Homo sapiens: one gene and its partners. The protein of the gene in region 3 purifies or fractionates together with the protein of the main gene of each other region. This does not show direct contact. Each region holds a gene or a part of one and is shown on either strand. Other genes may lie near its edges.

Region 1 (7,719 bases), on a different chromosome or scaffold from region 3:
TATATATAAAATATATATTTTATATATACTTATATAATATATAAATTATATATTTTATATAATTTATATTATATAAAATATATATAATATATATATCTTTATGTCCATGAGTACTCAATGTTTAGCTCCCATTTATAAGTGAGAACATGCAGCACTTGGTTTCCTGTTCCTGCATTAATTTGCTTAGGATAATGGCCTCCAGCTGCATTAATGTTGCTGCATATGACATGATTTTGTTCTTTTTATGGCTGTGTAGTATTGACTCATGTCCATGTACCACATTTTCCTTATCCAATCCATTGTTGATGGACACGTAGGTTGATTCGATGTCTTTGCTCTTGTGAATAGTGCTGTGATGCATGTGTCTTTTTGGCAGAATAATTTCTTTTCTTTTGAATATATACCCAGTAATTAGATTGCTGGGTTGACTTGTAGTTCTGTTTTATGTTATTTGAGACATGTCCAAACTGCTTTCCACAGTGGCTGAATTAATTTACATTCCCACCAATAGTGTTTAAGCATTCTCCTTTCCCCATGGCCTCACCAGCATCTGTTGTGTTTTGACTTTAAAAGCCATTCTGACTGGTGTGAAACGATATCATATTGTGGTTTTGATTTGCATTTCTCTGATGACCAGTGTTGTAGAGCATTTTTTCATATGCTTGTGGGCCATTTGTATGTCTTCTTTTGAAAAATGTTGTCCTTCATGTCAAGGGCAGTATGGTCACTTTTTAATGGTTTTTCTTGTTGAGTAGTTTGAGTTTCTTATAGATTTTGAATAGTCACCCTTTGTCACATGCATTCTTTGCAAATATTTTCTCCCATTCTATAGGCTGTATGTTTAGTCTGTTGATTATTTGTTTTGCATTGCAGAAGCTTTTTAGCTTAATGAAGTCCCATTTGTCAACTTTTGTTTTTCATTTTTGTTGTTTCCTTTTGAGGACTTAGTCATAAGTTCTTCGCCTAGGCCAATGTCCGGAAGAGTTTTTCCCAGGGTTTCTTCTAGGATTTTTATAGTTTCAGGTCTTACATTTAAGTCTTAAATCCATCTTGGTTAATTTTTGTATACGGTGAGAGACGGGGGTCCAGGTTCATTCTTCTGCATATGGCTCTAAAATTATCCCGGCACAATTTATTGAATAGGGTGTCCTTTTGCCAGTGTATATTTTGTCAAATATCAGTTTGCTGCAAATATGGGGCATTTATTTCTAGTTTCTCTATTTTGTTCCATTGATCTATGTGTCATGTCTATTTTTATACCAGTACCATGCTGTTTTGTTTACTATGGCTTTGTAGTATAATTTTAAGTCAAAATGTGATACCTCCAGCTTTACTCCTTTTGTTTAGGATTGCTTTGTCTATTTGGGCCCTTTTATGGTTCCACATGAATTTTAGGATTGTTTTTTCTAATTCCATGAAGAATGACATTGGTAGTTTGCCAGGTATTGTGTTGAATCTGTATTTGCTGAATATGTATTCCTGAATCTGTATTTGCTGAATCTGTATTGTTGAATTTGAATTGCTTTGGGCAGTATGGTCATTTTGATGACATTAATTCTTCTAATCCTGGAGCATGAGGCGTTTTTTCCATTTGTTTGTGTCATCTATTCTTTCTTTCTTTTTTTCTTTCCTTCTTTCCTTCCCTTTCTTCCATTCTTTTCCTTTTTCTTGAGACAGGGTCTCACTTTTTTTTTTTTTTTTTTTTTTTTTTTGAGACACAGTCTTGCTCTGTTGCCCAGGCTGGAGTGCAGTGGCATGATCTCGGCTCACTGAAAGCTCCACCTCCTGGGTTCATGCCATTCTCCTGCCTCAGCCTCCCGAGTAACTGGGACTACAGGCGCCCGCCACCACGCCCAGCTAATTTTTTGTATTTTTAGTAGTGACGGGGTTTCATCGTGTTAGCCAGGATGTTCTCGATCTCCTGACCTTTTCACCAAGGCTGGAGTCCATAATCATAGCTCACTGCAGCCTCCAACTGCTAGGCTCCAGCAATCCTCCCACCTCAGCCTCCTGAGTAGTTGGGACTACAGGCATGCAGTGTCAGGCCTCTGAGCCCAAGCTAAGCCATCATATACCCTGTGACCTGCAAGTTATATGCCCAGATGGCCTGAAACAAGTGAAGAATCACAAAAGAAGTGAAAATGGCCTGTTCCTGCCTTAACTGATGACATTCCACCACAAAAGAAGTGAAAAATGGTGGGTCCCTGCCTTAACTGATGACATTACCTTGTGAAATTCCTTCTCCTGGCTCATCCTGGCTCAAAAGCTCCCCCAGTGAGCACCTTGCGACCCCCACCCCTGCCTGCCAGAGAACAACCCCCCTTTGACTGTTAACACATTTTCCTTTACCTACCCAAATATTACAAAACGGCCCCACCCCTATCTCCCTTCACTGACTCTCTTTTGGACTCATCCCGCCTGCACCCAGGTGAAATAAACAGCCTTGTTGCTCACACAAAGCCTGTTTGGTGGTCTCTTCACACGGACGAGAGTGAAACGCAGCACCATGCCCAGCTAATTTCTTTGGTTTTTCAGGGATTGTAGAGACAGGGTCTCGCTATGTTGCCGAGACTGGTCTCAAACTTGTGGCCTCAAGCAATCCCCCAACCTTGGGCTTCCAAAGTGCTGAGATTACAGGCACCAGCCACCTCACCTGGCCTGATTTCTTTCATCAGTATTTTGTAGTTCTCCGTGTAGAGATCTGTACTAGTCTGTTTTCAGGCTGCTGATAAAGACATACCCCAGACTGCGCAATTTACAAAAGAAAGAGGTTTAATTGGACTTCCAGTTCCACGTGGCTGGGGAAGCCTCACAATCATAGTGGAAGGCAGGGAGCAAGTCCCATCTTACATGGATGGGAGCAGACAAAGAGAGAATGAGGAAGACGCAAAAGCGAAAACCCTGATAAAACCATCAGATCTCCTGATACTTAAGTCACTACCACGAAAACAGTATGGAAGAAAACACCCCAATGATTCAATTATCTCCCACCAGGTCCCTCCCACAACACATGGGAATTATGGGAGTATAATTCAAAATAAGATGTGGGTGAGGATACAGGGTCAAACCATATCAAGATCTTCCATGTCTTTCAACAAGAATAATTAATATGTTAATTCACATAGAAGCTGAAATAGTCTCCAAACATGGCCAACCCTCTTAGATTCAGAAACACAAGGTTTACACTTATAAAAAACATATGGACCCCTTTCCTCCTGGAAATTTACTACCAGGGTTTGTAGTCTAATTGACTATACTCCTACAGCTTTAACATCTCATATAGATGATAATCAGACCTATGATATAGTATAACTAGTTAAAATAGAAATCATATTTCAGAGTACCCACATTCTTCCCATGTGCAGTTGACGGGCCATATTACAAAAACAAAATTTGGAACTCCATTTCTGTTTTAGATTGTCCACAGCTTCAAGACGAATGTTATCGTCTACAAAATGTTTAAAATCCTGAAATTATAGAAACGTGGCTTTAGTCTCTACCCATTCAAAATAATATGTAATATATGGAAAATGTTTTTGTTGAGGAAGAAAGATAAATGAGACTGTGACCATCTTAGGCCTCACAATCAGACAACATTTAAGTCATATTGGTATTTGGTGCAAAACTGGATTCATAAAAAATTACTTTGGCGACAAAATGACACAGTAGTCTAGATATTGATACTCAAATATTCTGGGTATTAAAACTCAGTCTTCTTCAGGTTATACTCCCAGCTAACTTACTTTGGGACACGTTCTCGGTCTATACTGAGTCTGTGTTCCCAGGCTTAAGTCCTCAAACTTGGCCGAGTAATAAAACTAACCATGATTTCTTTAAGTTTTAGTACCTGTTATTTCACCTTTCGGTCGACAAATCGTTTTTCTCATGTTCCTCTGTCTTACATCAATTTAATTTGTAGACCAGCCAAATGACCTAAAAGGCTAGAAGGAAACAATTTTTCCTCCCCTACAACTATTTCCTCTAGTCCTCCGGCTGAAAGTTGTTCCACGTCCTGGGCAGAGAGAGCCCCACCAGGCAGCACCACCAGCTCCACAGAGTTGGAGCGATTCCCCCAAGAAGCTCCCCTGCGCCCCTCCTCACCCCCAGAGACCAGCAGAAGAAATGGCATCTATCCCTTGGAAGACACTAGGCAGGAGAGAACAACTGCAAGCCCTTCTGCTCACACAGAAAAAAGGATGGCGGAGGTGGCGAATGGGATGTAGCAGAAACCCCGCGGCTGCGGCGGAAGGGACACCGCCCCTCTCCAGCCTAACTCTGAGCCATCTTCCCCCTGTTGTTATAGCACTTAGAACGGACGCCACTGCGCAGGTCACACCGTGCCGCGCAGCCTTCTGGGGGTCGGAGTCCAGAGGGGCTGAGGCGCGAAGGCGGAGACCGACTTCTTAGCGGGCCGCAGTTGGAATTAGATTTCTACTGGGGCGGGGCTCGAGCGAACCACGGCCTAATCCTCATTAGCAGAGAAGGATAATTACCGCAATACTCTGCCCTGCCCTGACAGCAGCTCGTGAGACCCTGAGTCTGCTGAAGGCCGCCTCCAGCCTGGGCTCCGGGCACAGGCCACACCCCTCCCGCCGCGTCCTGGCCTCTCCCATCGATGGCGTGTGGGTGGGGCTTCGTGGGGGCGGAGCTGCGCGGGGCGGGGCGTCGCTGCGCGGGGCGGGGCGTCGCGGGCTCGTCCGTGATGCTCTGGGATCCCGCGCTTCCGAGACTCGCAGTCTACGCGAGCTGCCTGTTTTTTTCCTGCTTGGACGCGCATGAGGGCCCCGTCCATGGACCGCGCGGCCGTGGCGAGGGTGGGCGCGGTAGCGAGCGCCAGCGTGTGCGCCCTGGTGGCGGGGGTGGTGCTGGCTCAGTACATATTCACCTTGAAGAGGAAGACGGGGCGGAAGACCAAGATCATCGAGATGGTGAGTGTGGAGGCTCGGCGCGCCCAGAGCACGCGAGGGGCCGGCTGGGCCGTCCGCTGGCCTCGGCAGCCTGTGCTGGGCCGCTGTTCGGTCGCGACGGGGAGCTGCCGGCGTCGCCTGTCAGGCTGGGATCTCGCTAGCTCGGGACGCGCAGCTTGGGGGACCCGGCCGCCCCGCGTGCGGCCACTCCGCGGGCTTGGTGACCAGGGTTGGGTCCCCGGCTGCGGCCCTTGGCTGCCCGTGGTCTTTGTTAGGTTTCCGTTTGAAGGAACAAGGCAGAAAATAGATGAATCGGACACAGGCTACTTTGTGCTGCAAAACCCGTTTCTCTAGAGATAAGCTGCATGTCCTGGGCAGGTGGCTCCTTCTCTCCCTGCCTTGCTCCCGCCCTCCCCCCGGATCCGCGTCAAACCGTTGCCGCTAATCTAGTTGCAATTCCCGCAGAGGACTAGTTTTATGTTGGGGCTGCCGTGAGTTAGATTATGAAAATGTGCAATATCTAAAATTTTACAAGAATGGCAATCCAGGAGAAATTCAGGATAGTTTATTTTGTATTTGAATGTATTCCTTCTTGTCTCAAAACTCCCACGAAATATCTTTGTTTTCATCTTAACTCCCAAAGCTCTTGTATACATTTTCGAATTTAATTTTTTATTGAAGAGGGTGTCTCAAGAATTCCCTTTGAGATACATTATAAGTAATTGTTTCAAAAATGAGGATATTTAGTTTCGTTTTGTATTTTAATTAGAACCCACTCAGGAAGACAATTCTTGCACAAACTTGCACGCTTATGTATTTCCTGAAATGCATAATCCTGGGTATACGCCTGACCGTGTGCTATACATGTGAACATCTAGGGTCAGATGATTTATGATAGAAAAAAATTTAAAATCTACACTAAATAATATCATTTTAGGGTGTAATACTTGGAATTTCTGAGCACCTGCAATATGTTCCAACTGACGAAAGACACGATTTGTCCTATTGGTTGTACTGACCCCAGGTTGAATACAGATGTATTTGCATAATTAAAATTAGCCAGTGTCCCAGCTATTTGGGAGGCTGAGAGGAAGATCACTGGAGTCTGGGAGTTCAAGGTTATAATCACACCTGTGGATAGCTACTGCACTCCAGCCTGGGAAACATAGCGAGACCCTGTCTCTTAAAAAAAAAAGTTAATTCCCACTTGTCTCATATTCCAATAATATTCCCTAATTTTGAATTAATTTATTCTTAAAGGGTCTTAATAATTCTAAAGGCTTATTAAAATTCATTTGTCCCACATCTGTATGCCCACAGCAGCAAATGGTTTTAACTCAGAAGTTTCATTTTGCTTTTGTTGCTTTCCTGCTTAGAAAACTTGGCTTTCTTTTGCCCAAGGTTAATAATGCCTATGTAGGGGAAAAAACCGAGTTGCCATATCTCCCTGCCTGTGCTTAAACTATGGATTGGTCTGTATACCACTTATCTAAGCCAAGTAAGGTTAAAAATCAGTGTGTTCACAAAATCCTTCAATGATACCATCATAGGAACAGTTTGCTATCTTTGTGACAAATAATGAAGACCTATCTAGAATACCAACTTATTGGTACTAAAGAAATCAGTCAATATTTACATGTATGCATAGTATATTAATTCAGATTGTAATATATGTGTAGCCTGCTAGTAGCTTTTCAATGGAAAAAGTGAAAAGAGCTTCATGTTAACTTTTTTAATTTTAATAGGTTGCTTCTTCAAGTGGAAGAAGTATTTGACTGGGGGTCAGAAGACCTGGGTTGGAATCCTAGTTCCATCTTTCTGTAATAATGTAGGTCTGCTCTGCCCATCCTCTGCCCTCCTCCCTCAGAAAAATCTCTGCAAACCCATGATGTCCAACAGACATAGCTCATATTGGTCACAGCTAACGGAGTTAACTACCTAACCAAGTTGGGCCTATCTAACTGGCTAAGAAAACCAATAACTTCTGGGACTTGGTCAAAATGATGCATTGTCTTGCAAGAGTTTTTAATTGAGAGACATGAGGAAGTTGCTAGTGGGTTGTGTATGCTACAGCTGAAATATCCCATAGGGCAGCAAGATTAATGTACAGAAGAAGCCAGTCATGGCTAGGCATGGTGGCTCACACCTGTAATCCCAGCACTTTGGGAGGGTGAGGTGGGAGAACCCTGTCTCAAAAAAAAAAAAAAAAAAAAAAAAAAGAAGGAAAGCAAGATACGGAATGGGATCAAGAAACTGAATTGTAAAGGAATTTTGTAAAGCCATTATAAAGAGTTTGCTCTTTATTTTGCAACAAAGGATCATCAAAGGTTTGCTTTGGCAGGGTACAGTGGCTCACGCCTGCAATCCCAGCACTTTTGGAGGCTGAGGCGGGAGGATCCCTTGAGCCCAGGAGTTCGAGACCAGCCTGGGCGGCATAGGGAGACCCTTTCTCTACAGAAAATAAAGATTTTAGCCAGTGCAGTGGCACACACTTGTAGTGTAGTCCCACCTACTTAGGGGCCGAAGGTGAAATCTCTTCAGTCAAGGTGGTCGAGGCTGCAGTGAGTCGTGATCACACCATTGCACTCAAGCTTGGGTGACAGAGTCACCCAGAGTCTCAAAACAGAGAAACAAAAAACCCAACAGTATGTTTTATGAAGATGAGATAAGGTGGACTGGAAGGGAAGATCCTGGAAAGAAATAAATTTAGGAGGTTGGTAGTATTGCTTGCGAAAGATGATTAGAGATCTTAAACTATGGCACTAGCAACAGGTATGGAAATAAGGGATCAGGAGACAAACATTTCCGAGAT
Region 2 (6,106 bases), about 110 Mb from region 3:
CACAGGGGATATTAAAATATTATTTTATTATTTAATTTTTTTTTTGAGACAGGTTCTCTGTCATCCAGGCTGGAGTGCAGTGGCACAAAAATGGCTCACTGAAGCCTCAACCTCCTGGGCTAAAGCGATCCTCCCATCTCAGCCTCCTGAGTAGCTGGGACTACAGGCACACACCACCACACCCGGCTACTTTAAAAATTTTTTAGTAGAGATGAGGTCTCGTCATGTTGCCCAGGCTGAACTTGAACTCCTAGGCTCAAGCAATCCTCCCACTTCAGCCTCCCAAAGTGCTGGGATTACAGACGTGAACTCCTGCACCTGACTTAATGTTTTTTTTTAGAGACAGAGTCTTGCTGTGTCATCCAAGCTGGAGTGCAGTGGCATCATCACAGCTCACTGCAGCCTTTAACTCCCAGGCATAAGCCATCCTCTGGCCTCAGCCTCCCAAAGTATTGGAATTACAGGCATAAGCCATCATGTCCTGCTGGGATTGGAGAATAAATAACTTACACAGCTACAGATAAGTTCTGATTCTATGTCTAATGGCTTTCCATTTTAATTAATGTAATTATACATTCATTTATTTAACAATTTTTGAAAACCATCACAACATAGTGTAAGTGCTCTGACAGGAAAGAGCCCAGGGATCTAGGGGAAGCACTAGTGGGCACGTAGCCCAGACGAGCAGAGCCAGGGAGGGCTTCCCAGAGAAGACTATGTCTGAGCCAAGTCCCATAGAGTAAGAGTTGGATAGAAAGTGGAAAACATTACATCCAGGAATTGCTACAAGGTAATGTGAAGCAGGGTGTGACAGGTCTACAGAGTAATCACTCCAAAACGGAGTTAGGCATCAGAGGACTCCAGGACAGATGTCTCCGAGAAAAAGATGGAACGGAGAGATTACCTGATATACTTGATGGTACTGAGCGAGGTTTTACACCTTGGTTGGAGTTTAGGGGTTCCATTCTTTGTCATTAGTTATTGATGACCTCGGTAAAGCTTAGTGATTAGCCAGCTGAGAAAACACAGTACTAGAGAGGGGGCTGTGTGTAAGATGGCAAGGCACTGGTTAGAAATAAATATATTTGGATTAAAAACAGAACCCAGGGGAAAAACAGTGGCAGTAATAAAAATGATAGCAATACATGAAAGACAAATACTTGTTTTGCCAACAGAAGACATGACAATCATCTCATGTTTAATTTGGCATATGTAGCTTTGAGTGGGGAGGAGTGGATCAGTTCATTAAGGTGAGATCAGGTTGAGGCAGTCAAAGATGCGCTTTGATGAATTCTGCTATAATGGCACTCATAAAGTACAGAGTTCACAATCTATATTCCCTACTTTTTGATGAGTTTATTTGTCTTTCTTAAAGGCTAGATCCTGACTTATCTGCATGAGAAAAATCTGGCTTGTCTGTTAAAAATACAAAATCCTGGCCTTATCCTATACATATAGAAAGGGGAGAGTAAGGGAAGAGAGAGGAAATCGTGGAATCTGCATTTTCAGCAAGCACTTCAGGGGATTCTTACACACTTCAGAGTTTGAAAGCCCTCCATGTGAGTCCTTAATGGAGGTGCAGATTAATTGTAACTGGATGTCCAATTCCTTTACTATGCTATGGAGCAGCCCCAGCTGACCCTAACATCAGATATTTTGTGTAGGCAAACATGTTGTGAAATATTTGAGACACAGGGTTAGACTTCCTGCGACCCTTCCTCTCCCACCACAGTGATTTAGCTCAGTCTTGGGACTGCGGAGAAATGAATTTCTAATTTCCTTCTCCTCCTTTCCCCAAAACAGACTCCTCCTTTGAATTTTAACATATATTAAACCAATGCAGACACCCTGTTAGACCTTTAAACTTCTTAAAATATGATGTCACCTGTGCTTTAAAAAATTCAATTAAGCCACCATCTAGTAACCCATACAAGGTCCTACCTATGGTGGGTGCTACTGCAAACTATTGAAATGAGGACTCAGAAACTCTGATTACAAGGAGCAATTAGGAGCTCTTCACCTCAGTCTGATGTCCCTGCACATCATTTCCATGAAGTCCATGTCAGAATGAACAGAAAAACAAGTGTCAGGGCACCTGGATTATATCATGAATGCCTCAAGTTTGAGGAATTCTAAGAACCCGAGCTAAAGCTAATATGGATCAACTCTTTTGGGAATAGCTTTTCTTAGAGCACTGTAGCGGAGAAGAGCTTTCTTTCTTCACCCATCACTAGGTTCACAAATGAGGCACCTATAACGAAAGACAGATTATTGAGAAAAGCACACACATTTATTTACTGTAAGTTTTACATGACAGGAATCTTCAGAAATGAAGACAAAAAAGAAATAGGAAAACTTGTGTATTTTTATGTACAGTCTTATGCAGAAGTATAATCAGAGGACAAAAGGACATAATCTAATGGTAATAAACTGTGGAGAACTTAGCAAGTCCTATTTGTCCAGATTCTTCTTGGTGTCTCTGTATCTGTGAGGATAAAGGGTACCTATGGAATGAAGGTTTTATGATCTACTTCAGGGAACAGTCACTTAGGGTTTATGGCCTGCTTCAGGGGAGAAGGGGTAAGGGGAAGGTATGAGAAACCTTGCTTCTGCAGTTTTCTCAAATAACAGGGTGCAATATTTTGGGGTTATGTGTCCTGAATCCCATCAACGTTAAGATGGAGAGACCAGCCCAAATCTTTAGTTGGATTCCAGCTAAGTCTTATACACCTAAGGGACAGAGGAGTAGTCATATATATGCCTTCATATCTGGTCACCTTCACAATGAGTCAGAAAATTGGTCAGACACCGAAATCACAACAGAAAAAAAAAATCTTTATTTCTACCAACTTGTCCCATCAAGAGAGTAAGATATACATATGTAAAGAGATGGAGTCCCACTCTGTCATCAGGCTGCTGGAAGGCAGTGGTGCAATCATGAATCACTGCAGCCTCAAACTCCCGAGCTCAAGTGATCCTCCTGCCTCAGTCTCCTAGAGTGCTGGGATTATAGGCGTGAGCCAGCACCTGGCCAATTATACTTTTAAAAAAATATTTTGACATTTATACTTGTTTATTATCTAAAAGCATTTTTATGAATAGTTCTCAAGAAGTCCTAGCAAAAATTGTGCTTCATTCTTTTTTGAATAACTCTAGCTAATAACATTCATTTGCGCAAAAAGCCTTATTATGCTGCTGCTAATAATTGCAACAAATTTACCTTAGATTATTAAAAACTATTTTTTCTTAGAAAACTATAATTCAAGGAATCAAGCTTGGCTGCAGAAAGTAATGGAGTTGAGGAATACTGTTAATTTTTCCAGATTGACCCTGGAGTCATCAGCAATAGTTTACTTTTATTATTTATTTATATATTTATATATTTATTTATTTATTTTCTTTTAGTTGGAGTCTCACTCTGTCACCTAGGCTGGAGTGCAGTGACACGATCTTGACTCACTGCAACCTCCACCTCCCAGGTTCAAGTGATTCTCCTGCCTCAGCCTCCCAAGTAGCTGGGATTACAGGCGCGTGCCACCAGGCCTGGCTAATTTTTGTATTTTTAGTAGAGACAGGGTTTCCCTATGTTGGCCAGGCTGGTCTCAAACTCCTGATATCAAGTGATCGACCCGCCTCCCAAAGTGTTGGGATTAAAGGTGTGAGCCACCGCGCCTGGCCTATTTTTATTTTTTAAATAAGATAGAAAATAAAAAAATCAGGATGAATTTTTTTAAAATTAAAAGAAAGAGGAAGAAAGAAGGAAGGAAGATTTATTTCTTGAAGGAGAAATACAAAGAGCTTAATTGGGTTAGGTCTCTGGGTAGCATTTGGTTTCTACTTCCCAACTGTACAGCCTATGCAACAACATACTTGTGACCAATTCTACATACAGATCATGATTTGCATAGCTTTCCTTTGTGTCAAAAAGAAACCAGGGCTATGTCCTTTCAAAGAGGAAGTAAAGAAAGGCTGGAGAACAGTCTAGCTGATGAAAGCTGCTTTAAAAATCCTTTTCCAAATTCCCAAGACTGCCTTTCTAAAAGGACTCTCTAACATTCTTATTTTAATATCCTCTTGCAGCATACCTTGATTTCCAAGATACTTCTGAAACCTAATTAAAATGGAACAGAAAGTGAATTTGGTGTTTTCCACCTATTTTTTAAATGAGAAATGAAAACTGTATATTTATTATTGTTATTTAAAAGTATGGAGCAAAATCAGGAGTGCAGAGACCTGCAGCAGAGCCAGAGAGAGAATACGGGTGATAGAGTGTTGAATAAATTGTTTTTAGAAATCAAATTCATATACTCAGGAAGAACTGGGGCAGAGAAGATTAAGCAAGCAAAAAGATAGGTTAAAAAAAGTAATGATGAACAATTACGGACACACACACACACACACACCATCCCCAAAAAGCTTTGGAGTGATTATGAAATCCAAGAATCCTAGTTCATAATTCATGTAAATGTGTTGCTGTGGAACTTATTTTTACTTCTCTCCATAAATACATTGTTGACACAGAATAATATTCTTAGTTTTCTGATTATAGCTAAGGGACATTTCAGGAGTTGACTTTTCCTTAAAAAAACAAATAGAGAGGAGGCTGTAAATGTCTCTCACTGCCCTTGTGCAGGTCTTAGATTTTACCCTACCTATTTCCAAACAGAAAACCTAGACTGTATATAGCAGCAACCTTAAGAGTGAGGGAGCTGTCAATTTTTCACATCATTTTACCAGAATTCTTTTTTTCTGGTATTGCTGTTCTCTATGTATTATTAATTTGTATTTATATTTAACTCTGGCTATTAGTCCGCCTCTTCCAGTCACTGAGCCATTTGCAAAGGAGAGAAGAGGGAGACAAGGGTTGCTATTATTAGGCATTCCTGTGTGTGACAATGGTGGAGACAATTAAATAACACCATTTTGCATCTTTGAAAATGACAGAGATTGTTTGGGGTAGACAACTCAGGGCTGGTTAACAAGACCGTTCCCCTCAAGAAGGTAAAACAATGGAGATACGTTTTTGAAGTACTTAATTAAGCTTTCAGCAATGAGTGTGGGAAAATTACAGACCCATAAAAACCCTCCAGTTCTAGGCAAGAGTAAATTTTCTCTGCAGTACACTGTCATTGCTCATTTACTGCATCATTTTGACAACATCTCATATTTACACAAGGCTTTTACATAATCTATACACAGGGACAGAAAGGTAAGGAACACAGAGAACAGGGACAAAGTTTGGACCTCCCGTATTGTCACTTCCTTTCATTTTTCCATTAAAGGGTAAGGCTGAAGGGTAGCATTTTAAGATGATTTTGTTAAAAGGCTGTGATGGTAATAATTGAACACAGCAAGATGAGCTGTGAAAAACTGCCACTGCTTGCTCACTCTTCCAAAGGATGAGTGTAATTCAGTCATAATGAAGGCTCTTTAATGTTCCTGCCCCAAATCTTTTCCGATCAGGAAAGCCTGGAATCTGTAGGCAAGAAAGATAATTGCATTAAGTCTCAAGCAATAAAAGTTCAAATACTAATAGTAATTTTTCCCTTCTTTTCCATTTCTGTATGTCAGCCTGCTGTTTCTTAAAAAAACAACTTTCTGAGGTTTTACTCAGAAAACCACAGATTAAATAATAAAAATAAATCTTACCCAAATGGAAAACATTTCCCAACAAATTGGTGATAGTGTCATCTAAATCAGAAAGAATGAAGGTAAATCTCATAATACCTACTAGACTTTTATAGAAATTATTTGTATTGTGACAGACCCTGAACGTATACTCTTGGAGTCCCAAGCAAATTATTTTCTTCTTCTATTTTATAATGTAATCTTATTCCTAGATTATATTTGTTTCCTAGATCCTTATTTTCCCTTTGTTCTGATTTTCTCCTTTTGTATTTAACAGGATAGAAGGAAATCAGTTGCTTGTGCCTATAAAGGGCTTTCCCCAACTTTTTAAAACTACTTCTGAACTTAAATTTGGAAATCACCTATCAAAATTTAAGAATCTATTTTATCAAGAAAAGAGATACCAACCTGATTACCTTCTCTTAAAAAGTATCTCTTCTCTATGACCTGTGAAAAACAAAGATTTTAAAGGCTTAGC
Region 3 (7,027 bases):
TTGTTCACTGAATCAGTCTCCCTGACCCTTCTCCTGCCTGCATAGAATAGGGGTGTCAGGATCCAAGGTCGTCAGCTCATTGCCTCATAGCTTGGCATCCAGCCCCAGAAACAGCAGCAAACAAATGACCCTCTCTCTCAGGGGACCCAGAAACAGGTTGCTATCTCTGGGGGTGGATTTGCTCAAACAGGTTTGCGGAAACAAACAAAATGGTTGCTTGCATCTCAATCATCAGGATCCCAGCTCTTACCAGCGCTTTTCAAACAGCCAAATGCCTGAGTCCAGCACCCTCTTTCCGCTTCCAAAATGGAATGGGGTTGTCTGCCAGCCTGCATCTTTGCCAGCATGCAAATGATGCACTTTGGGGTTTCACAGGGTATTAACCCCATGTTCTCCAATCCCTGATTAGGGAGGTAAGTACACTGAACCAGCTGTGCTTCTAGAAGAGAAACTAGGTGGGTGGGTGAGAGTGTTTATTTTCCAAAAGCGTTTGCAGCATGGGGTCATTTAGATAGCTGGCACAGAGAAAACACACATTCCCTCAGTGAGGTGTGCATGGAGGTTTTTAAGGACAGTACATTTGCAGTGAGGTACAACATTCACACTCTTCAAATGCAAAATATTTATGTATATTTTTGGTGATGGAGCTGTTCATTTGTTCTAGTGATATTTACTAGCCTGGAATGAAGAGCCCTGTTATGTATCATGCTTGTACTGTGTTAGCCAGTTTCGCTCTTCCAACACCACAAATTACAAGCTGATACATGGTTGGGAGTGGATCCTTTTCCCAGCCTCTCCCCTTTGGTTCATAACAACAGCTGCTGGTGATTGAGCTATGGCCAGGATTGGGGCTCGATGCTTTATCTTCCTCATGATATGCAGTCTCACCACAATCCTATGAGGTAGGTGCCGGCATTATCCCCATTTTGCAGATGAGGACACTGAGGCTCAGAGAGAAAGTGACTCATCCAGGATTACACAGTTTAGTAAGTGGCAGGGAGAGATGTGACTTTGGCTCCAAAGCTGATGCTTTTAGCTATGCTGACATTCTGTTTTCTCTTCCTCTTGGGCTGGAATTGTCATTCCTGGACCATCAGGACCTCCACAAGCACTTAAGACTTTAGAGAGGTCTCCATCAACCATCCCCTGCCCCTGCAGGTGAGCCTCCTTCCAGGCCCTCCCTATAGCCTAGGCCCCCGTGTTGGTTGGAGGTATAATCCCAGCTCTGGCTCTTTCCTGGTTGTGTGACCTGGGATGAGTCACTTCACCTCTCCTCACCTGACTCTGCACCTCCACGAAGTGCAGGGAAGTATCCCATTCTGACAAGGCTGTAGGAAGGATGGAAGTAGAGAAGGCAATTTGCCCCACCCCTACCAGTCCCGCACCTCCTTCTTGGGGAAGCTCGAGTTCTAGACACGGTCCCCTCCACTCTCCTCTTGTACTCACTCTCACTCTAGCAGGTCCTGAATCAGCATTCAACACACATCGCTCTGCCTTGTGCAACGCCATTATCTCCCGAGGACACAGGCTCCGTTGTCACGGCAACCAGAGTCCTTCCACCAACTCTATTTAATAATTTCTTAACGGAGGAGCTGGGCTGGCTTGGTGGAAGGGAAAGAGCACTGGGTTAGGGGTTAGAAGCTCTGGGTCCTAGCCTCTGCAAGACCTAGGACTCTTCCTCTCTAGGCCTCAGTTTACCCATCTATAACACAGGTGTGTCTGAAATGGGTGGGTTTTGTGATGTTCTCTAGCCTACAAAGACCTGAGAAACAGCTTTCCAGGTCCAGGAAGCTGGGAACAAGTGACCTGAGCTGCTGGAGATGAATTGGGGGTTGGAGTGAGATTTGAGTGAGACCCACAGGAAGAACCAGATGCTGCCTTTGGTGACTACACTCTCTCTCTCTGCTGAATTTCCTCCAGAATGTCACTCTTCAAACATTCATGAGGTCTCTGTGATCCTCCAGATTCAGGGCCAGGATTGGTTAGGAGACAGTTGTTTTGCCTGCAGCCATCATGGCCCTTATCCTCCCCATTTTGCAGATGTGCAAACTGAGGCTCAGAGAGGGCAAAGGAGTCGCCTGTGGTGCCTCAGCAAGTGGAAAACCCGGCTCTTCATCCAGGTCATGGCTTGTTTCAGAACCTGGGGCTAAGCTGTCCAGGAAGGTCATGTTGCTTGTACCTGAAGAAGACAGCCTGACCCTGGCCCAGTCCCTCTGCCCACCGATCTCACTCTGGCCACAATCTGTGTGGCCTCTGGCTCTCATTCAAGGAACCAGCAGATAATCAAAGTAATACAGAGGTACCCACTCTGTGTTCTTGACTATGGGACCAGAGACTCCAAACAACACAGCATTCCTGCTCTTAAGGAATCTACGGTTTTCAATGCAAGTGGATCTTCAAAGGGCAGGAACAGCATCCAGTTTCTTTCTACAATCCAAAATAGGACCTGGCACACAGTAGGTGCTCAGAGTTTTATTCGGTCCAATTGTTTGTCCACATCTGCCCCTAAGGATAACTAGTCTAGGCCCCCCAGGGGCCTTTAAGAAAATCTCCCAAAGCAGCCACCGATCCATGTCTCCAAGGAGCTGCTTCGGACCCTGAGCTGAAGAGGGGTCTGTGACCAATGAGGGGACCCTTACTTTGTGACTCCTGTCTAGCTCCAAGTTTGGGGAGGGGGCTGCTCTGCCCCGGCCCGGTTTGATGGCATCACTTTTAAGCACAGACGTTGCCAGATCAGTGGTGCTATTTAACTCCTCCAGGGCTGGCGTTTTCATTTAATACCCGTGGAATAATTAACAGTGCTGCATCTGCTCTGTCATTAGTGGCATTCACTGCCATTTGGAGAAAGGGCTCTTATCTTCCTCAGTCATTAGTCTCGGGGAGGCTATTATGGGGGAAATGGAGGAGGAGAGGAGGAAGTGGGGCGTGCAACTTCCCTCCCCTTGCCTGGAGAACTGGCGCCTGGTGCGGGGAGCAGCCGATCATCCTATCCAATGGTCCAAACCTCTTGGCTGTATGAACTGAGCATGCAAAGCCAAGAGGGGAAAGAACCTGCCCACGGTCCCCCACAGGCTTGAGGCCCAGCAGAAGGCGGCTCTCCCACTTCTTTCTCAGGTCTGCAAGCCCAAGCCTCGGAGCCCTGCAGCTTTGGATCTGATTCCCAGCTCTGCCCTGTGTCAGTGGTATGACCTTGGGCAACTTCTTGAGCTCCCTGAGCCTCAGTTTCCTTATTGAGGATCCTGGGACAATGCTTGTGAAGTACTGGCTCAGTGCCTAGGTCACAGGCAGAGCCCAAGACTGAGAGATGTACATATCAGATCATTCTGTGTCATTATGCTGAACCAACCTGCTAAAAATGCATATGTAATACATGCGTGCATTTAAATTCCATCTTTCAAAAATACTCTTCAGTAAGATGACTTCTTCTCTCTCCCCAGGCCTACTTTTTATTATTATTTTTTTAATCATAGGTGGGTCCTGGATCTTAAGCTCTGGAAACATCTGACTTGGGCGGAAAGGGGCTTGGTCAGCTCAGGCGGCAGTGAAGCCTGGATTGCAGGCTGGCAGCTCAGACGGTGCCCAGGAAGCTGGTAGCTTTTGCTTTTGGCCACTTTTATTTTGTATTGCTTTCACTTTTTCTCAGCCCTTGCATGGCACAGCCAGAAATGGCGAATACAGAGAAAAAGCCCCTGGCTCCCCAACAGTTATCTTGTCTCAGGTGCTTTTCAGAAGCAGCATGAGGTTGGCATCACCAAGACCTGGGACCAAACTTGGTCTGTGCACCCTGTGGCAAGTGACTCCACCACCCTTGGGCTCAGGGTCCTCTCTGGCAGAAGGAGAGAGTAGCACCTATCATCCAGTATCAGCCTTGGCTCAGGGACCAGTGCCCAGCAGGCCCTCTGAACTCACTGTCAGGGCCCAGCTGGACAAGTTCTCTCCCCACCATCCAGCCAGGGAACTGTCAAACCCTCAGGTCTCTTGCCTCCCCCTGCACCCCAGAGGGAAGCTCCTAGAACTCATGATATTTCACAATCTCCAGCATGGCAACAGTCCAAAGGCAGAGGTGAGTGATCCCTGCCCTCTTGCCTGGGCATGGCTCAGAAGCACACAGCCTGCTCCTCCAGTGGGTCTGAGCTGAGGCTCACATACAAACACTCCCCACAACCTTCCTGGCTACCAAGACCTTTAGATCCTTCTATGAAATCTCATGGGGTCCCTGGTGTTCATTTCTCCCCCAATTCACCGAGAAAAGCATTCTTGTGTGCACATAGGTGTGTGAGAGCAACCATCCCTTCCTCTCCCTCCAGGCCTGGTTACTGCTGGGACCCCCCGGCCAAATGATCACACTTTGGACCCCAAACTCTGCGCATAACCAAGGAGATGTTAATCTCTGGCCAGAGCTCAGGTAAGGTTACAAGATGCTACGGCCCTTTTCTCCCCAGCCTCACAGCCGTGCCTTCCCACGCTCTCTTGTAAGTCTCGATCTTTGAGTGCTCTGTGCTCTGCCTCCTACCAGATCTGGCCTCATCTGGGCTCCTTCTCAAGGGGCTACCTGGTGAACTTGGATTTCAGCCTAGCAAAGGTGATTTTCATCAGCTGGGAAACTAGGGGACAGAGATGAGGAGTCAGGGCTCACTGAGCCTCAGGTTCATCTTTTGGATGGGGATAATAATGGTACCAATAATAACAATAAAATTACCTTCACTTGAAGTTCCCAGGGCTGTCACAAGCTTCGACTGAGAAAACACTTTGAAAACTGAAATTCTACATAAGTGTTAACGTGTGCATGTACGCACATGTGTGCAAAGGAGCCTCATTTGGGTCAAGGTCATTCTGATTTGGGCTTTATAAGAAAACTAGCTTTAAAAAAATCACTCTTTATTGGAGAGAGGATTCTTCTCCAGGATCTCAAGGACCATATTTTCTTCCCCTGGAATACTTCATACATGATCAAAAGAAAAAGCAGCTGCAAGAGCATTTTTAGCAAAGTATAAAGTGCGGTTCTGATGACCGGGAGTATCGTGATCAGCGCTAAGTTGCAGCAAACCGCAACACTGATACCAAATGTCTTTGCTCACCTCCCTGTGGCTGCTGCCCTCTCCCTGCACAGAATCTCCTTATCAAACTACACAGCCATGAAAGCAACCTGCTGTCGATGTTTCAGGGCATCTTTGACCTTGAATGTCCCTCTGGCCAGGGCTCAGTTATCTCAGGAGCTGGCGTGAGACACAGAACTTGCAGACACCAGGCAGCTGACAGGTGGGCAGAGCTGCAGGTCACCGTCCAAGGCAGTCACTAACTCCTGCATCCCCAAGCCTGGCCTGTGTGCCAGGATCCCATCCAGCCCCAGCAGCCAGGGGGCCCCTTTCACAGCCAACAGTGCCCCTGGCATCCTAAAGTGGCCTGTTCCACCTAGTTGTACATCCCCTGCTTTCAGAGCACCACAGCCAATCTCGCTGCAAGACCTGGCCTCCTTGTAATTTCCAATTTGTGAGAAATGTAAAAATAGAAGACCATTCGCTGCAGGCAGCTTGCATAGAATCGGATGCCACTTCTGTGTCATGTCAGATCACGGTAAATGCAGCTGATGGCTTTGTCAGGGCACTCTCAATAGCTTCCTGAGCAGTAAGATGGTGGGGACAAAATTGGGGGATACCCGAGAGTTAGGGAAAGGTGGCTGAGTGCATGACATCAGCACTAGCTGCAAATGAATTTAAAATCTAGGTCCCAAATATGTTGTAACAGGCTGGACATCTCAATTTGAACCCCAGTTCTGCAACCTAGCAGCTGAGGGACCTTGGGCACAAATTCATCTCTCTGCAAGTCAGCTTCCCCAGTTATCACGCAGAAGCTATCATGCCACCCAGCCTCCCAGAGCTGTGGCAAAGCTCCACAGATGGAATGGATGAAGAAGTGCTTTGTAAACTGTGCAGCTCCTTAACTGGGGTGGAGGCAGCGGGGGGCGCTCATGGTCATTGCCAAGTAAGCAGTGTCAGGGGCTTTTAGTGGCAGAGATTTAAGCATGCTGTGACTGAGTTTGGGCTTTAAGGCTATTTACCAGCCCAGTGATCCTGCAGCAAGTGCTTTAGCCCCTCTCCTCCTCAGTTTCCTCACCCTGACAGGGATCATTATGCTACGTATCTCACAGGGTTTTGTGAAAATTAACTGCAACGATATAAAGCACACAGCACAGTCCCTGGCATATTGCCAACATGCAGTAACTGACAGTTATTACTGTTTTTGATACAATTGCATTGGAACAATATTTAGTGTTTTCTTTCTTTTCTGTTTATGACTGAATTCCAGGTCTCTGCTGAAATATCACAGCTTGCATTCACACCTACTGCCTATGCCAGGCAACTCTCCTGTCTGCTACTGGCCCACTTCCCACTGACTCCATAGCCCCTTCCCCTGACCCCAGAGGTCTTAGGTGAGCATGGAGTAGATGAAGATGCTGGATGTTAATATGCTCACTGAGACCCATTTCCTGGGAAGTCCTATTTTGGGGTGCACATCTGGCCTCCCAATCTTTTCTTTTTCAAGCACCAACCTCTTCCCCTCCATCTCCCAGTGCCCTTCAGAGAATGGGGTAAAGTTGGCAAGAAGAGCCACCCGTGCAGGGCCTGTCTGAGAAGCCAGCATCGAGGCATGCCAAGCCACAGAGCAGTGGACACAGGATGATCTTTTCACCTTGTGGGGGAAGTGCCCAATGCTCTTGGCAACTGAAGTCAATTCGAGGTTGCTGTCATTCAGCGGGGCTATACCCTGCCCACCATTCTCCAGGCACAGAGAAGCTCAGGCGACGTTGCATGGGTGAATTGAAGGGGTAGTCCCGACACAGGCATAGACAGGCCTGCTGACGCTTGCATTTTAGTTTTCATTTGGGCAGAGAGGGGATGAAGTGGCTCTAACTGGGTTTGGCATTGGGGCTGTGGCTGAGGAGAGGGGCTGCTGGGGCGGGGGTGGTAGTCAAGGGGAAGGTGGGCACATTTTGGGCTAGGCAACAGGGATGGGCTTCTAAGGACAA
Region 4 (7,027 bases), on a different chromosome or scaffold from region 3:
ATCATACGTATATACTGCAATTCATTATACCCATTCAGTGGACTGTTCCAGCTTATTAAAGTCACAGGTTAAGCCCTTAAAATTATAGATTTCAGTTTATATTACTCATCTTTATGTACCAGAACTGCACAATTTCCTCATCTGACAACATACAATAAGGAATGAATATCAGCAGCTTAAAAATGAAACAAGCATTTACTTTATTTTGGATTTCTCCCACCCCCAAAAATATAAATATATATATATATATATTTATATACTGTATATATCTGTAGGTTTTGCTGTACTTTACAAAAGTGTATCACTAGATGGCAGCAGTGCATTTTAGAGCTTTGCCAATTTAACAGCTGCATTAAGTAAAAAATGGCGCATGCATGATCTGATCCTCAGAGGACCTTTTCACTTCTATTTAAATATTTTAACAAAGGAAAAAAAAAAGCAACATTCACAGCACATCAAGCCCAAAATAGTTTACACCTTCTACACTGAAGCATTGTTTAAAATGTACCTGGCTAGATCACCCTTACAGGAGAGGCTAAATAAGGCATGCTTTAGACAGTCATTGTGGTGTTGCTCACTTGAAAGGGGAGAGAACCAAAGAGGTCCAAGCAGAAAATTTTAGCAGGTCATGTTGCCACCAGTTTCAGGAACCTAAAGATCTGTAAAGAAATATGTATTTGGAAATTATAAAGGGATTATGCACTGTCACTCACAACTACACCGTGTGCCACACAAAACTTTGGTTCAAACAGCACGCTCAGGGATGTGGTGTGAAATTCTGATCTCCATATGCCTAACAAGATGACATTCTGGCCCTGCTGCTACCTGGCCATTCTTGTCTTGCCCCCAGACGTGAGGTAAGACTAGTAGGCCTCTGGGAATAAGCCACCTAAGAAGGTGACAATTTTCACCTCTTTGTAAAGATATAATAGTAGTGAAAAGTGTTGATTTTAAAATATGTCTTCTGAAATGGCATTTATATAAACATGTGACACAATGCACCTGATGGCGGGGCACACTGGCTCATGCCTGTAATCCCAGCACTTCTGGGAGGCTGAGGCAGGCGGATCACTTGAGGTCAGGAGTTCAAGACCACCCTGGCCAACATGATGAAACCCCGTCTCTACTAAAAATACAAAATTTAGCTGGGCATGGTGGTGGGCAGCTGTAATCCCAGCTACTTAGGAGGCTGGGGCAGGAGAATTGCTTGAACCCGGGAGGCGGAGGTTGCAGTGAGCCGAGATCACACCACTGCACTCCAGCTTGGGCAATAGAGTGAGACTCCATCTTAAAAAATCCAAACAACAACAAAAAACAACGCAGCTGAAAAATGTTCCTTTCCAGTCCCTAAACTGGGCAGACAGAACTGGCTTCATCAGTATCAGCTGCTCTGAAATGAACTAAAATATCTTATAACACCAATTACTGAAGAATTTGTAACAAGGTCAATAGAGGCACATTCATTTGAATATAATTTTTAAGACTGCTACAGAAGGCCATACTTACATTGTAAGCAGTACTTAATTTGTGTTTCTCTGGCGCAAGTTTTTATCTTTGTGATTGTTGGTAGAGTTGGTTTTCCTTTGGAGGAAAAATTGCATTACATGAGTTAAACTCAGTCAATAACTTTTCAAAGTATAACACATGGAAATACAGGGACTCTTTCACTTACTGCCATCCCTGGTGTAGTGAGAAATTTTGTGGCACAATATGAGTGCATAAAAAAACATTCCTTAAGTAGCTACAGGTTAAGTATCCCTCATCTGAAATGCTTGGGATCAGAAATGTTTCAGATTTTGAATTTTTTTAGATTTTGGAATATCTGCATTATACTTACCAGTTCAGCATCCCTAATCTGAAAATCCAAAATTCAAAATGCTCCAATGAGCATTTCCTTTGAGCCTCATGTGAGCACACAAAAAAAACTTCAGATTTTGGAGCATTTCAGATTATGGATTTTGGTAGTAGGTAGACTCAACCTGTATATACCTCATTTTATCCTCCTTTTGACCCCCAAGGCAGACGAGTACTTTCCCTTCGAATCCGGAACTATAATTACGATACAGGTGAGAATATGTAAAACTTTTCTCCACTGAACACAACACCACTGTCCCTTCTTGATAAAAGGTAATCATAAGCTGGCAGTGCTGGGCCCTCTGGTACTTAACAAATTTGGGTGCTGTTTGTCTGCTTCTCACTCTTTAGTCCAACTCTAGGAGATTCTGCCGATCTTAGATTGATTCCATACCTGCAGTACCCTCTCTCTTGGATACGAGCAATTGTTAATGGGGCTAGACAGTTTATCCAGGCTATAGTTCAGCCTCAAATTGCATTACATGAGTTAAACTCGGTCAGTAACAACTTTTGAAAGTATAACACATGGAAATACAGGGACCCTTTTACTACCATCCCTGGTGTAGTGAGAAATTTTGTGGCACAATATGAGTGCATAAAAAAACATTCCTTAAGTAGCTACAGGTTGAGTATTCCTCATCTGAAATGCTTGGGATCAGAAACGTTTTAACATTGACAAAACCGGGAGCCTCAGATATACTGGCCATTTCCCCCACATTTTAAGTATATCAAATACACAAAATTTGAAAAAAAAAAAAGTTTTTTGCATGGTATTCCACTTTGTATGGCCACTGGAAAACAAGACTGCATAACCTATCCTGAGAATCAAGTGGTTTTTAGTCAGATCTGTGTCAAGCTAAGAAATCTACACTGCAACCTTCATTTCCACTCACTGTCTTCCCCTCCAATCTTAGCTACTCCATTTGATTAAACTGCAAACACAACATCATTCAATCAGATACTGTTGAATCAATGTCCAATAAAGTACTTACATTGGTCCAGCTGGTTCATCATCTACATGGTGTTCAGTTTTTTAAAAATCCATGAGAGATAAGAGAAGAAAGGAGAAAACTGTTAGATTCTGCATAAGGATTAACAGAATAGCAAACTGCAAGTGGCAATCATGGCTACTCACAGCATTTATTAAAGGCCATTCCATCTGGAGGTGCAAAACACTCATGGAGTTATTATTTCTAGATTCAAGTTTAAATGGCAGGTATGTTGTTTCAATGGTTTTAGTTAACACTTTGAATGCTTGTCATGAAAAACTGCAACTGTAGCGGACAGATAGGCTGCAACATTGTTATACTCATCTTGTCCCCAAGTTCCAGTGGTTCACTCTTAAATAGATGAGAAGACAAACCAACATTTCAGTTGTAAAATCCTGCTGTTTGTTTTCTTGTGGTGAATGCATGCAGTTTTGGCTCAATCCTGCAATGTGAATGGATGTGTACCATCTGTACATTTAGCCACACATCCTCACTTCCCCAAAGGGCACTCTGTTTTTCTTGCTGTTTTGTAATCTTTAGAAGAGTCTTTAGTCTGGAGAATGAGATTGAGAAGAGGCAATCACAATAGTTCAACCTAAATTGGGTCAGCCATGCTGGGCTATGCCAGCAACAAGTGTATGTATACCAGAGGATGTTCTGTGACACACCGAGGAAAGCTGAACAGTGGTGACATCCCTCTAGAAAAGACTTCAGAAAGACAGGCTCACTCCTGTGCCCTGGCCAAAACCAGAAGCCAAACCCAGGGGAGCCATGAGATAACTTTTTTAAAATCAAAAAGCTGACATTATATGAGTTTAAGCCTTCTTAAATTGATACTTTATGATTCTGATTTATAAGTCTTTCGTGTTTCAACTAAGTGCAACTTGATCCCCTTTAAGCAGAGATACACATTCACAGAGAGAGAATGTTTTAAAAAGACCCACAAGGGGAAGGGAACAAGTAAGTGCTCTTAGTTTGTTTTTATTATACAAAAGTCAGGTAAACTAAATGATTCAGAACAGTTTGATTTCACTGAAGGCTTCTAGAAAAATTCTCAGCAGGATTCCACAAGGGGGCTTGGTGCACATGAAGCAGTTATGGAGATTACAGTCTCAGTGTAGGCATCTGCAGGAGCACATGTCGGGAGTAATGTCTGTCAGAGGGAGACATTGCTCCACCTGTTCCTTCGAGGCAACGGAGAGGCAAAGCCACCGCCAGCACACACAGTGACTGGAGCAAAAAAGGATTTCAAAAAAAAGAACTAACCACAAACCAATGACTCATCAGCCAAAACAATAGGCTAGCGACACACTAGTGTCCACAGGAGTCCACTACTAACAACAGTATACACTATCAAACGGGTACAGAGAACAAACTAAGACTTAAGGACACCCAAGACATCTGTGTGCTGTGTATGCAGTGGAGAGATACAAAGACATACCAGGTACTAAGACACAAAAGCCCAGCCTAAATTCTCCCCTCACAACATCCTAATGCTCAGCATCCCGGCCAAGCCAGCTCAGCTACATGCTAGGAACTAAGCACTTTGGGGATTTAAATGAAAAGACATAGGAGCAAACTTGGAATACTTTTAGTGCTCTGGCTGTGCACTCGAAAATACAAAATTCTAATGCAAGAGAGCCGAATCAAGAATACACCAATCTACTCCCAAATTTAAAATAAAAAGCAGGGGAGGGAGAATCGCAATAGCCAGGCTAATCTTTTCAAAGCATGACACTGTAGGCACCAACCCAAGCACCTCACACCACGGGCTGTTTTTCCTTTTGGAGTGTGGGTATTCCCTGGTGTCTGATTAGTAATGTCACTTTCCAGCCCAACAAGCTGGTAACATGCAAAGGGTTGCATGGAGGTGTTTTAGCGACAGTGCCTCCGGCATAGCTGCCATGCCTGCAAGTGGGAGCAGTTGAGATTCACAAGGGGGCAAAATCCCAGGAGCCCTCTTCATCTGTCTCCCCAAATCCACTTTCACACTGACAAACAAAAGAGCCTCATGTCTCCCCACTCTCCTGGACTGAATCACTATCTGCAGCACCACTCTCCCCTACAGGTCAGACAAAAAAACGACTTGACCCCTAACAGGGAAGTCAGGGGAGAGGGAAAGAACAGAATTACAGAAAAAAGATACAGAAACCAAAGTAAATGAGGATTAAACAGCAAACTGAAATCCAAATTAGTTGTGAAAGTGAATGAAGTAAACTTGAAGAAAAGTGTTAACATTATGAACTGTGCATCGTATAGACTGAAGCGGAGATTAAACAAACTCCAAAAGCATGCATATCGCTCACTTACCACCATGTTTTAAGGGTTTGATGCAATTGAGGGGGGAAAAAAAAGAAGTCATAGTAACCGACAAATATCAACATACCCCAAACCCTCAGGCCAAAAGATAGCCAGCTTAAACAATGACTGTTCTCTCCACCTCAGTATTACAGCCACTGGCTAGATGAGAGGAAGAGGACTGGGGGGATAATGGAAACAAGATGCTTCTGGAATCCACCTTATGAGAGTGAAGTTACCGGTGGAACTGTAGCACACACTGATTTATCTGCGTGTTCCATCTTCCCAACCGAATGGACCACAGCCCTCACTCCCCCTATATCCGCCTCATCATCTAGAAGGGGTGCTCTGCAATGTCTAGTAAATAACGGATTGCCTAATACAATATCACCTCCAAAAAGATGGCTTTAAAGTCCGAATAATGAAGAGTTGACTCTCTGGTCAAAGGTCCTTTGTCACTGCATTCATCTCACTAGAAGGTTTTATGGTTTCTAAATCCACTTAAATTTTGCCTGACCTTAGCAGGTTAGCATTAAACCCAAGAGAGACTGAGTTACTTCCTATTTCCTTCCTTGTTTGGTCCTATTGCATTTTCTCCATGAGGTAACTTGTTATTGACCCAGATGGCCCCTAGTTAACAGACCAGACACCGAATGCATGTTTTAGGTGTCATTTTAAAAGTCACATTTCTTTTCCAATATCCCTAGTCTGTATAAAGCTTCATATGCTACCAAATGTTTTGACCAACGAATAGATTTTGGAACATTAGAACAGCTCTTCATTCTAAAGTGTCTAAAAGAGCTTGGATATATCAGAGCCACTAAAAATGGCCCCCCAAAAAACCTCAAATATCTTCTCCATCAGTAACTTAAAGAGAGTCCCTTTGACTTGCTTATAAAAAATTATCCCAAGGTAAAAACAGAAAGTTCTTTTTTGGTACCAGCACTTCTTTTCTTAAATCAGCTCCTGTTTTAATTTGCTGTCTGTGAGGTCACTAAAATATCCAGAAGAACTGCAGGCCTCAGCAACTAAGTGGGTTCACTCCCCATTCCTCCAGGGCCTGGGGAGGGGAGACTCAGGAGCACAGGCTGACTGCTCCTGGAGTGCAGTCCGCAGGACACCAACACAGAAGGTGCACCCAAGCAGGTGCCCAGCTGTGACATGGATGGAAGCCTAGAGGCTGCTAGCTTGACCTGGTCTTTTTAGAGAACTATCATTTAACATTTTCAGGGAATACAGTCAAGTGGTGAGTCAAGTGAACAAAACAAAGCTCTTATTTGACTCCATGATTCACTTGTTCCTGAAAATACTGAAGGTAAAGGTGATCTGTAGATTAGTCCACCTACAAGACAACCTAGTGGGCACTGATCCTCAAAGAGACCATACAGGGGACTAAAGGAATGCAGGTGGGTGTTTTCATGTAGGAAATGGTCTGAGAATACTCCAGTAGGTAAAGAAAAAAGACATGGGGCTTTTTTTTTTTTTTTTTTTTTAAAGGAAGCAGCTAAACCTCAATCCTAAGCATTTTCAATGTGAGAAATCTAAATATTTGATTTTCTAGTGAAACATACTTAAACTAAACTATGTAAGTTCAAATTTGTGCTTTTATACTTTTGTATTGTTCACTTAGTGCTTTTGTAGTAAGGGGATGAGTTACCAAGAACTCACAGACTGCCCAAAATATGACGACTGTGCATTCATATAAAAAAAGTTCAGTGAGTCTGAAATGAGCCATGGGTGTATCTTGATAATAAAGTGCTATTTGGCAAAGTAGAAGTATGGCAGGCCTATAAAAAAATTCCCATTTTCCTAATGGTATAAAAAAAATCCAACACAGAGCCACAGATGGTTATCTGATAGGTAAACACTTATGACCTCTTAACACT

Evidence for each region.
Region 1: the proteins of SLC6A1 (region 3) and NT5C3A purify together in Homo sapiens (affinity purification with mass spectrometry; 2 studies listed by BioGRID and IntAct, with this or other methods). This does not show direct contact.
Region 2: the proteins of SLC6A1 (region 3) and RABL3 purify together in Homo sapiens (affinity purification with mass spectrometry; 2 studies listed by BioGRID and IntAct, with this or other methods). This does not show direct contact.
Region 4: the proteins of SLC6A1 (region 3) and NPTN purify together in Homo sapiens (affinity purification with mass spectrometry; 2 studies listed by BioGRID and IntAct, with this or other methods). This does not show direct contact.

The regions. Positions count from the first base shown.
Region 1 is NC_000007.14:33,059,777-33,067,495, reverse strand, and holds the start of NT5C3A (cytosolic 5'-nucleotidase 3A), read left to right. Parts: upstream 1-4,719; 5' UTR 4,720-4,790; coding exon 4,791-4,928; intron 4,929-7,719. UniProt on the Homo sapiens protein: Nucleotidase which shows specific activity towards cytidine monophosphate (CMP) and 7-methylguanosine monophosphate (m(7)GMP). CMP seems to be the preferred substrate.
Region 2 is NC_000003.12:120,684,413-120,690,518, forward strand, and holds the end of RABL3 (rab-like protein 3), read right to left. Parts: intron 6,076-6,106; coding exon 6,037-6,075; intron 5,692-6,036; coding exon of another isoform or gene 5,650-5,691; intron 5,477-5,649; coding exon 5,411-5,476; 3' UTR 526-5,410; downstream 1-525. UniProt on the Homo sapiens protein: Required for KRAS signaling regulation and modulation of cell proliferation. Regulator of KRAS prenylation, and probably prenylation of other small GTPases. Required for lymphocyte development and function. Not required for myeloid cell development.
Region 3 is NC_000003.12:10,995,723-11,002,749, reverse strand, and holds part of SLC6A1 (sodium- and chloride-dependent GABA transporter 1), read right to left. Parts: intron 1-7,027. UniProt on the Homo sapiens protein: Mediates transport of gamma-aminobutyric acid (GABA) together with sodium and chloride and is responsible for the reuptake of GABA from the synapse. The translocation of GABA, however, may also occur in the reverse direction leading to the release of GABA.
Region 4 is NC_000015.10:73,560,390-73,567,416, forward strand, and holds part of NPTN (neuroplastin isoform b precursor), read right to left. Parts: exon of another isoform or gene 6,549-7,027; intron 3,397-6,548; exon of another isoform or gene 2,990-3,396; intron 2,869-2,989; coding exon 2,847-2,868; intron 1,582-2,846; coding exon 1,521-1,581; 3' UTR 1,507-1,520; intron 660-1,506; 3' UTR 1-659. UniProt on the Homo sapiens protein: Probable homophilic and heterophilic cell adhesion molecule involved in long term potentiation at hippocampal excitatory synapses through activation of p38MAPK. May also regulate neurite outgrowth by activating the FGFR1 signaling pathway.